2 separate regions of the Homo sapiens genome follow, and region 1 is linked to region 2. Evidence: fine-mapped expression QTL. A gene starts in region 2. The other region holds a variant in brackets. All regions are shown on one strand. Distances are from middle to middle. Region 1 has its middle 36 kb from the start of AOC1. Region 2 holds the start of SLC4A2 (solute carrier family 4 member 2).

What was found. PIP is the estimated chance that this variant, and not a neighbour inherited with it, causes the effect.
Region 1: its variant is fine-mapped to the expression of SLC4A2 in whole blood (TOPMed, PIP above 0.99).

The regions. Positions count from the first base shown.
Region 1 is chr7:150,885,852-150,891,224 of GRCh38, forward strand. No RefSeq gene overlaps it. Among named protein-coding and RNA genes, the nearest start is that of AOC1, 36 kb to the left of the region's middle. The variant G/T (reference allele first, on the strand shown) is at 3,230.
Region 2 is chr7:151,057,258-151,062,559 of GRCh38, forward strand. SLC4A2 (solute carrier family 4 member 2) reads left to right here and starts at 2,332. Exons shown (of 23, transcript NM_003040.4): 1 at 2,332-2,505; 2 at 4,668-4,781. The coding sequence starts at 4,731. CDK5 (cyclin dependent kinase 5) reads right to left here and starts at 640. Exons shown (of 12, transcript NM_004935.4): 1 at 555-640. The coding sequence starts at 591. LOC128092247 reads left to right here and starts at 4,671. Exons shown (of 1, transcript NM_001414898.1): 1 at 4,671-4,721. The coding sequence starts at 4,671. The coding sequence ends at 4,721. RefSeq lists enhancers at 1-444, 403-532, 863-912, 1,063-1,342, 1,423-1,472 and 2 more and silencers at 2,206-2,395, 2,436-3,025.

The sequences.
Region 1 (5,373 bases), 170 kb before region 2:
GAATACCCCACCCAATGAAAGCAAATTTTTCTCAAGTGCACATGGAACATTCTCTGGATAAACCATTTTCGGTTTTGTTGGTTTTTGTTGGTTGGTTTTTTTGAGATGGAGTCTCACTCTGTCGCCAGGCTGGAGTGCAGTAGTGTGATCTTGGCTCACTGCAATCTCTGCTTCCTGAGTTCAAGTGATTCCCCTGCCTCAGCCTCCCAAGTAGCTGGGACTACAGGCACGCACCACCACACCCAGCTAATTTTTTGTATTTTAATAGAGACAGGGTTTTACCATGTTGGCCAGGATGGTCTCAATCTCCTGACCTCATGATCCGCCCACCTTGGCCTCCTAAAGTGCCAGGATTACAGGTATGAGCCACCGCACCTGGTTGGATCAACCATTTTCTAGGCCACAAAAGAAGCCTCAATAAATTTCTGAGGGTTAAAATCATATAACATATGTTTTCTGACCACATGAAATAAAAGAAATCAATACAAAAAGAAATTTGAGAAATTCACAATAAGTTGAAATTAAACAACATATTCCCTAAATAACAATGGGTCAAAGAAGAAATCCCAAGAGAAATTAGAAAATCTTTGACATGAATGAAAATGAAGACACAATATATAAGACACAGTATAGGATGCAACTAAAGCAGTGCTTAGAAGAAAATTTATATCTATAAATAACTATGTTAAAAAAGAAGAAATTTTCTATCACTAAACTAACCTTCCACCTTAAAACACTAGAAGAGCAAACTCAGCGTAAAGCAAGCAGAAGAAAAGAAATAATAAAGATTAAAACAGAGATAAAGAGAACAGAAAAAAATAGAGAGCATCAATAATACCAAAAGTTAGTTCTTTGAAAAAAAATCAACAAAATGGACAAATCTTTAGCTAGATTGATGAAAGCTAGAGAGAAAGGCTCAAACTGTCAAAATCAGAAATGAAAAAGGGGACATTACTACATTACTACTGTTATGTGATGAAATGTGTCTCCCCCGATAAAAACAAAACTTATATATTGAAGTCCTAACCCCCAGTTCTTCAGAATGTGACTGTATTTGGACGCAGGACCTTGAAAGAGGTAATTAAGGTAAGTGAGGTAATTTGGGAGGACCTAATCCAAAATAATTGGTGTCCTTATTAAAAAAAAAAAGATTAAGACATAGACAATGCACAGCGTGAAGTTCACAGAGAGGAGATGGTCATCTACAAGCCAAGGAGAGAGGCCTGAGAAGAAATTAATTTCCAAGGACTTAATCTTAGACTTCTAGACTCCAGAATCATGAGAAAATACATTTCTTTCTTTTTTTTTTAGTTGAGACAGAGTCTTGCTCTGTCACCCAGGTTGGAGTGCTGTGGCGTGATCTCAGCTCACTCCAACCTCCGCCTCCCAGGTGTCTCATGCGTCAGTGTGAAGAGACCACCAAACAGGCTTTGTGTGAGTAACAAGGCTGTTTATTTCACCTGGGTGCAGGCGGGCTGAGTCTGAAAAGACAGTCAGCAAAGGGTGGTGGGATTATCATTGGTTCTTATAGGTTTTGGGATAGGAGGTGGAGTTAAGAGCAATGTTTTAGGGGCAGGGATGGATCTCACAAAGTACATTCTCAAGGGTGGGGACAATTACAAAGAAACTTCTTAAGGGTGGGGGAGATTATAAAGAACCTTCTTAAGGGTGGGGGAGATTACAAAGTACATTGATCAATTACGGTGGGGCAGAAACAAATCACAATGGTGGAATGTCATCAGTTAAGGCTATTTTCACTTTTGTGGATCTTCATTTGCTTCAGGCCATCTGGATGTATACGTGCAGGTCACTGGGGATATGATGGCTTAGCTTGGGCTCAGAGGCCTGACACCAGGTTCAAGCAATTCCCCTGCCTCAGCCTCCCAAGTAGCTGGGATTACAGGCATGTGCCACCACACCCAGCTAATTTTTGGGTTTTTTTTTGTTTTTTTTTTTTTGAGTAGAGACAGGATTTCACCATGTTGGCCAGGCTGGTCTCAAACTCCTGACCTCAAGTGATCTGCCCACCTCAGCCTCCCAAAGTGCTAGGATTACAGGCGTGAACCACTGCACCTGGCCAGAAAATAAATTTCTATTGTTTAAGCCACCCAATCTGTGATACTTTGTTATGGAGGTCCTAGCAACTAATGCACCAACTTTTCAGAAATAAAAATGATTATAAAACGATACTCTATGCCAGCAAATTAGACAACTTAGAAGAAATGAACATATTTCTAGAAAGACACTGCCAAGACCAGCTCGGTCGGGGAGACCCTAACCCAGTGGTACTAGAAGAATTAAAGACACACACACAAAAACATAGAGGTATGAAGTGGGAAATCAGGGATCTCATAGCCTTCAGAGCTGAGAACCCCAAACAGAGTTTACCCACGTATTGATTAACAGCAAGCCAGTCATTAGCTTTGTTTCTATAGATATTAGATTAACTAAAAGTATTCCTTATGGGAAACGGGATTAACTAAAGGTATCCCTTATGGGAAAGGAAGGGATGGGTCTGGCTTGTTATCTGCAGCAGGAGCATGTCCCTAAGGCCCAGATCTCTCATGCTATTGTTTGTGGTTTAAGAATGCCTTTAAGCGGTTTTCTGCCCTGGGTGGGCCAGGTGTACCTTGCCCTCATTCTGGTAAACCCACAACCTTCCAGCGTGGGCATTATGGCTATCATGAACATGTCACAGTGCTGCAGACATTTTGTTTATGGCCAGTTTTGGGGCCAGCTTATGGCCAGATTTTGGGGGGCCTGTTCCCAACAGACACAACTACTGAAGGTGACTCAAGAAGAAACAGAAAATCTGAATGGACCTATAACAAGTAAAGAGAATGAATTAGTCATGTTAAATTTCCCACAAAGGAAGGCCCAGATCCAGATGGCTTCAAATGGTGAATTCTACCAAATTCTAAAGTAGAATTAAGATCAATCTTTTACAAACACTTCCAAAAAATAAAAGAGAAGAGAGTATTTCTCAACTTATTCTATGGGGCCAGTATTATCCTACACCAAAACCAGACAAAGACATCACAAGAAATGAAAACTACACATCAATATCTCTTATGAGGCCAGTCACAGTGGCTCATGCCTATATCCCAGCACTTTGGGAGGCCGAGGAGGATCACTTGAGGCCAGGAGTTTGAAGCTGCAGTGAGCTATGATTGCACCATTGCACTCCACCCTGGGTGGCAGAGTGAGACCCTGTCTCTATAAAATATAT[G/T]TATTATATTTTATAATAGATATAAATGTTATATATAGAGAGAGAGATCTTATTAATATAGGTACAAAAATCCTCAACAAAATACCAGCAAACAAAATTCAGCAGTATATAAAAAGGATTACACACCCGGACTAGCTGGGATTTATCCTAGGAATGCAAAGTTGGTTTAACATCCAAAGTTCAACTAATTTAATACATCATATCAGTAGAATAAAGGACAAAACCCACATGATCATTTCAATGGATTCAGTAAAACATTAAGTAAATTCAATACCCTGTCATGATGAAAACACTGAACAAACTAGGAATAGAAGAAACCTTCATCAACCTGATAAAGGGAATCCACCAAAAAAATTCACACACACACACACACACACACACACACACACACACAGCTGAGATCATACTTAATGAGGAAAGACTGAATGCTTTCCTGCTAAGATCAGAAATAAGATAAAAATATCTACTTTTATCACTTCTATTCAACATTGTCCCAGAGGTCCTATTCAGGGAAATTAGGGAAGAAAATTAAATAAGGGCTTTCAGATTGGAAAGGAAGAAGTAAACTATCTCTATTTGCAGAATGCAAGATCAAGATATAAACTGTAGGCTGGGCATAGTGGCTCACGCCTGTAATCCCAGCACTTTGGGAGGCCAAGGCAGTATGATCACTTGAGCCCAGGAGTTTGAGACCAGCCTGGGCAACATAGTGAGCCCCCTCTCTAAAAAATATTTTTTAAATCCAGGCATAGAGGCACATGTCTGTAGTCCCAGCTATTCGGGAAGCTGAGGTGGGAGAATAACTTAATTCAGGAGTTCGAGGCTGCAGTGGACTGTAATTATGCCACTGCACTCCAGCTTGGGTAGCAGAGTGAGACCCTGTCTCTTAAAAGATAAAAATAAAAAATATTGAAATACCTAGAATTAGGGTATGATTTCTTCACTATTACACCAAAAATACAAGCAACTAAAGAAAAAATAGATACATTTGACTTCATCAACATTAAAAATGTTTGCACTTCAAAGGACATTATCAAGAAAGTGAAAGGACAACAACAAGAATGGCAGCAAATATTTATAAATTTATATACCTGGTAAGAGTCTAGTGTCCACCATACACACACACACACACACACACACACACACACCTCAATAATAAAAAGACAACCCAATTAAAGATGGGCAAAGCATTTGAATAGACATTTCTCCAAAGAAGATAAACAAATTGCCAATAAGCACATGAAAAGATGCTCAACATGACCAGTCATTAGAGAAATGCAAACCAAAACCACAGAGCAATGCCATTTCCCATTACTAGGAAGGCTATAATGAAAAAGATAAGACAATAACAAGTGTTGTTAAGAATGTAGAGAAATTAGGCCATGCGCAGGGGCTCGTGCCTGTAATCCCAGCACTTTGGGAGGCCGAGGCGGGCAGATCAACTGAGGTCAGGAGTTCAAGACCAGCCATGACCAACATGGTGAAATCCCGTCTCTACTAAAAATACAAAATTAGCTATGCGTGGTGGTGCATGCCTGTAATCCCAGCTACACAGGAGGCTGAGGCAGGAGAATCGCTTGAACCCGGGAAGCGGAGGTTGCAGTGAGCCGAGATCGTGCCATTGCACTCCAGCCAGAGCAATAAGAGTGAAACTCCATCTCAAAAAAAAAAAAAAAAAAGAATGTAGAGAAGTAGAGAAATTGAAACCTTCATACATGCTGGTGAGAATGTAAAATGGTACCACCTTTTTACTACTTTCTGTAGGTTCGTGATTGCTTAGGGCTGAGGGGACTTGGGGGGAAATTGGGAGTAATTGCCAATGGGTACAGGGTTACTTTGGGGAATGTTAAAAATGTTCTAAAATTCAGATTGTTGCACAACCTCTGTTAATATATTAGAAACCATTGAACTGCACAGGCTAAATGGATGAATTGTAAGGTATGTAAATTATAACTCGATAAATCTGTAAATAGATAGATGATAGATAGATAGATAGATAGATAGATAGATAGATAGATAGACAGACAGACAGATACAACATTTTTTGAGACAGGGCCTCACTCCCACTGTCCAGGCTTGAGTGCAGTGATGCAATCTCAGCTCACTGCAGCCTTAACTTCCCAGGTTCAGGTGATCTTCCCACC
Region 2 (5,302 bases):
CAAGGGAAGGGATTCAGGGTGAAGGTAGGTTGGTGAGCTTTGTGAGTGAGGATGTGGCAGGTGGGGAGGGAGGAGAAGGTGCCCACCGAGGCTCCAGGGGCTCGGCAGGAGGGGCGAGTGCGGTTGCCAGGGCAAGGATGTCTAAAATGAAGGCGGTGCTCCGGAAGGGTCTGGAAATAGTGAGGAGGGGTCTGGGAGAGGACTGAGGGGCTGCAGAAATATTGAGGTTGGAGGTCTGCAGCAAGAAACGAGGCTGGGGGTCGGGGTGAGGTTGTCCAAGTGCTGCTGAGGCTGGGGTGAGAAATTTCAGGAAGTGTCGCGGTTGGGAGGTCGGGTCTACTGGGAACGCTAAGGTTGGAGTGAGAGCCCTGCGGGAAATGCTAACACGGGGAAGACTGGTGTCTGCACGGAGTGCTGAGCTAGGGGGCCAGGGCTGCAGCCGCTGCTGAGATCGGAGCCTGTAGGCATTGCTGACGGTAAGGGAGCCAGGGCTTCAAGGAATGCCGAAGGATCTGCAGAGGAGCTCTTGCAGGAACATCTCGAGATTCCATTACCTTCCCCAATCTTTTCCAGTTTCTCGTATTTCTGCATCGCGGCGGCCGCGGGGACCCCTGCGGGCCCTCGGTTTTAAGACTCTGGCCCCGGCGTTGCAGAGGAGGCGGCACCTGAGCCTCCAGCCCCGCCCCGTCTGCCCGCGCAGGGCCTTCTGGGGCTTGTAGTCCTAAAACGACTAGGTCTCCCCGCAATGCCCGAGACCGAGGACAAGAAGACTACAACCCCCAGCCGTCTGCGCTCACGCTCTCTGCAGCACTCGACTCCAGGGCTCCGTTTCTACCGCGGAGGCAAACCTTGGACTTCAAGTCCCAGGAAGCAACGCGTGTCCGTTTTCCGGGCGCCCCGCCGCGGCGCCGTGGTTCCCAGTGTGCCCCGCTGTTGTTATTCCTTTTATGTGCTCCCAGCCCTCTTGAAAAGGGCCGCTCCGGGACTACGCGTTCCAGAATGCAGCGGAAATGGGGGCGGAGCGCTCTCGGTTAGGGGTTTGGGGTTTGGCGGCCTAGATCCCGGGCACTGGCGGCCCAGCGCTGACCTGGTTGGTGGCATTGTGTTCCCAACGGCCTCTTGACGACCTCAGCACGGGTTTCCACCTCTCCCCAAGCCACCTAGTGACCCCAGAATTGACTGGGGAATGCCTGTGAGCGATGATGACCTCACAGGGAACAGCTGACCGCAGGGCTGGGAGAACAGCTGTGCCCCTTCGAGGCTGGATTTTAGTGGAGGGACACACGCCAAAGACCCCCTCTCTGCTGAGCCCCGTTTGTTGTCTCGGAGCCCACCCGACTCTAGCCGCTGAACTCTGACATGCTGAGGAAAACTGGGTGGAGCCCTGGGGGTCCCCCTCAGACCCCAGTCTCCGGAACAGGGCCCACTGGAGTCAGCCAGGGTGTGGCAGGCAGGTTGGTTAACCCCCTCCACAGACAAGACCACAGACCGATGCTCAACTTGCAGCAGCCTCTGCCTCACCCCTTAAAGGAGCTGATTATAGATTCCCTTACGCTGCCTCTCTAATTGTCTCATGATTGCATTCTTGAGGGCTATGGACCGAGGGAAAAGGATCCCAAACAGCACTCCTCAGCACCGGAACCAGAGTTGCTGCTAAACACGTGTTAATTAACTCGTTTCTATCTGAATGCTTTTGCATACACAAGGGAAAAGAAGCAAAAAGTGTATTCCTTATCTGGAAGACTTTGTGATTTCGTTGGGCAAAAAAGAACTACACACAAAGGTCTTGAATGATAAGTGATGGCTCTGCCTAGGGTTCGGTTCAGTGTGGAGGTTCCATTCAAGAGGAAGGAGGCCAGCACAGCGAATCTCTGTCCCTCTCTGGAAGTGGAGAGCCTCTAACAAGTTACCCTCTCCCAGATCAGCTCAGGGTACCGGGCGGCCAGCCTCCAGCCCCTGTCACCCTTCTCACCCACTCGCCACCCGTCCCTCAGGGGCTTTCTTGGAGGCACGGGGGTTATTGAGGGGGGCAAGAGAATCTCAACCCCGATACGTTTATGTTTCGACTTCCCCGAATTTCCTTGTGCCTGCGTTTTGCTGCCTGGGATCCCTAGCGTGAGAAGGGCTCCTTTACACTCAGAGGTGCCGTAATGGAGCCAAGGGACGGCATCCTCGGGGCTCCCGAGCCCCGAGTGGAGAAGCTTGGGGCAGAGGGACGGCGGGGGCGGCCCCTGGTGCCGGGCTGTGCCTGGAAGCGCGCCCCCGCCCCGGCCCCCGCTCCCGCCTCCCCACCCGCGAAGGCGGGACCGCGCACGGTGCGCCGGGGGGCGCGCACGCAGGGGGCTGGCCTGCCCGCGGCGCGGGGGAAAGTTGAGTTGGGAGAAGTTGGGAGCGGCGGGGGCGCGCCCCGGGGTGGGCACGGGGCAGTCGTCGGGAGCGCGCGAGTGCGCCGGAGGACGGGGAGAGACCCCGAGACCCCCGGGGCACGAAGTCCAGAGCGAGCGGGTAGGCGGAGAGGTGGTGGCGGGGGACGGCCAGGGCCGCAGAGGGAGGAAGGGAGGGGGAAGGAGAGGGGGGAACTCGGGACTCGAGCGGGGAGGGAGTGGAAGTGGAGGAAAGGGCGGAGACTGGGGCGCGGGGAACCGCGGTCTTGGGGAGAAGGATGGGGAGGCGGATGGAGTGCTGGTCGGAAGCGGGCATTCCGGGGTCCCCTTCTCAGAGTTCCCTAAAGCCAGGGTGCCGCGCCCCCTGCCACCAGGAGGGGGTAGTCTCCCCGAGGCGCCGCCGGCCCTCCCACTCCCCGGCTGGCTCCAGACCACCCCTCCCCTCCGGCCCCCCCGCATAGTCCTTCAGTCCCGTCCGGGGCGCCCAGACTGGGGGTTGCCCGGGGCCCCCATCCCCAATCTCCGGGTTGAGAGGCGAAGCCAGGAAAGGCGGGTGGCGGGTAAGGTCGGACAAGGGGTCAGACAGAAGAGGGAGCAGCTGGGTGGGAATGGGAAAGATGAGCCCGGAGAGTTGGACCTGACTCCCGGGGTCGGTTTGTCCAGGCGGGAAGTTCTGTGCTGGGTGTGAGAGGCGGCACTGCCTGAAACCCAGGGTCTACTTTATCCCCCTTCGTTTCCCCCGCCAGCCCCACATGGAAGAGCTGCGGAATTTACGAGTTCACTTGGGGGGTGGTTAATGCCCAAGTGGGGGTCCGAGGTGCTAATCCCTTGGTCAAGGGGAGAGATACTAATCCTCTGGGCCGGTCGGGGCTGGTCCCGGGAATGTGCCCCTACCCGGATTATCGGCACCGATGCTCTGGACAGAAGCTGCTTTGTGTTCTGGGACAGCAGGGGAGGGGGTGCAGAGGAGTGTGGAGGAGCGCGACGAGGGCACAGCCTGAGGTGGGAGTGGGCGCCTGCAGGTGCTCTGGGCGGACTCTCCCCACACCCTTCCCAGACTGGGTGCACTCACGCTCACCCACACCACCCGCCCTGGCTGAAGGCCTGCTGAGGGGGAGGGGAAGAGCGTGGTTAGCCAAGTTGGAGTGCTTGCCAAGAATGTGTTGCCAGGCTCCCCATCCTGGGTGACCCCCCCAGACCTATATTGTTTGACGCTACACTGACTTGTCTTACTCCTAAGTCAGGCACCCCCAGTCCCCAGCAACACACTGGGAGCATGGGTTGTTGGGTACCGTCACTTTTTGCCAGTCTTGGGTGCCCCCTGTGCTGACCCGCTAGGAATGCGCCCCCTATTTGCAGGGATTGGGCTCCCTCCTGCAGCTCCTTCTCTGCCCCCACCACACAGTGTCCTCCCCAGACTCCCTACAGTCACAGTCAGGAGGGTGGCAGCACTGCCACTCAGATTTTCCTGGCTCCAGGCTCTAGAGGGGCGGGATCCAGACTGCCCCTCAGAGGCAGAACCTCAAGGTTGCGGTGCCCACCCCCTCCCAGCCCATCACATGCCCCTCCCCCATTATAAAGCTCTGCCCAGCCCATGCCCACCTTCTGTGCCTTCCTCTCTCTCAGTGAGTGAGTGGAGTTGAGCTCCTGCCCTCCACCCAGCCAGCCTGCTTCCCTCCTGCCGGTCCCCAAGGACCTGGGGGAGGGAAGCCTCCTGCCGGCCTGTACTGGGGAGGGGGCACCCCCTCCCTGCAGGGGCATCTTGGGCTCTCTCCAGAGTTCTTCCATTCGTCTGCTTCCTGTCTCGGCAGCCCGGCCCCGGCTCCACGGGGTGTCTCACCCTCCCCACCACACCCTCTCTGGTCTCAGGCCCACCTCTGGTGGGTGCCCTGACCCTGCGAGGCTCCGTTGTCTGCCTGGGCCTTCACTCCCCTCTTTCCCCAGCTCATTATCACTCCCTCCCTCATCTTTGTTGCTTTCTCTCCGGGCCTGGGCCTTGACTCCTTTCTCCCTCATTTTTCTTGCGGCCTTTCCCACCTCCTCTCTCCTCCTCCCTCTACTCAGCCTCTCGGCCCTTTTCGGCCCCCCTCGCCTCAGTCCTCTCCTGTCTCCTTGTTCTTCTCTTTTCTTCCTATAAATAACTCTCCTCTGTGCTGTGGCTGCCGCTAAGGGCCACTCTGAGGCCCTTCATACTCCAGGAGGATCCCCAGCAGCGCAGCCTGCGCGTGGTGGCTCCTGCCCTCCCAGGGCTCTCGATGGTGATCAGGCCTCTCCCCCATCCAGGTTATGCCTCCGCCTCGTTGCCCTGAAAGCCGCAGCGACAGCGAAAAGGGCTAAGATTCGGCCATGAGCAGCGCCCCTCGGCGCCCCGCCAAGGGCGCAGATTCTTTCTGTACGGTGAGTGTGGCCCCCAGGTCGCCAGCCCAACCTTCCCTCCCTGGGCAGCCTTGGGTGCTCCGGCCAAGGGTCCTCGCCAACCAGGGGTGTGAGCGTGTGTGAGTGTGGAGACTGGGAGGATGCTGCCATCCCTACCCTGACTTTGCATGATGGTCGTAGGGGGGGATGGGTAGTGGGGGTATCAGACGTCTTCCAGTCCTGGGGAGGGAGTTGAGGCTGTTACCTGAAGACCTAGGTAGCTTAGCCTCAGCGGTTGAGGAACTTTGAGAACCCTGGGTCTCTCACCCAGCAACCCGTCTCAGACCCGGCTGGCCTTAGAGGCGCAGGTCAAGTCTGCACGCGGGCCAGGGTTCTGGGCGGAGCTCGCCTGCCACGACTGGCCACGCCCCCTGCCCACGTGCCACCCAGGCCCGCCCCTCCCTGCCCCCACGTGGCCACCGCTCCACATGGCCCCCTTTGGATTTTCCTAAGGAGTCTTAATGATTAACCCCGTGCCACAATCAGCTCCGCTATTGGTCACA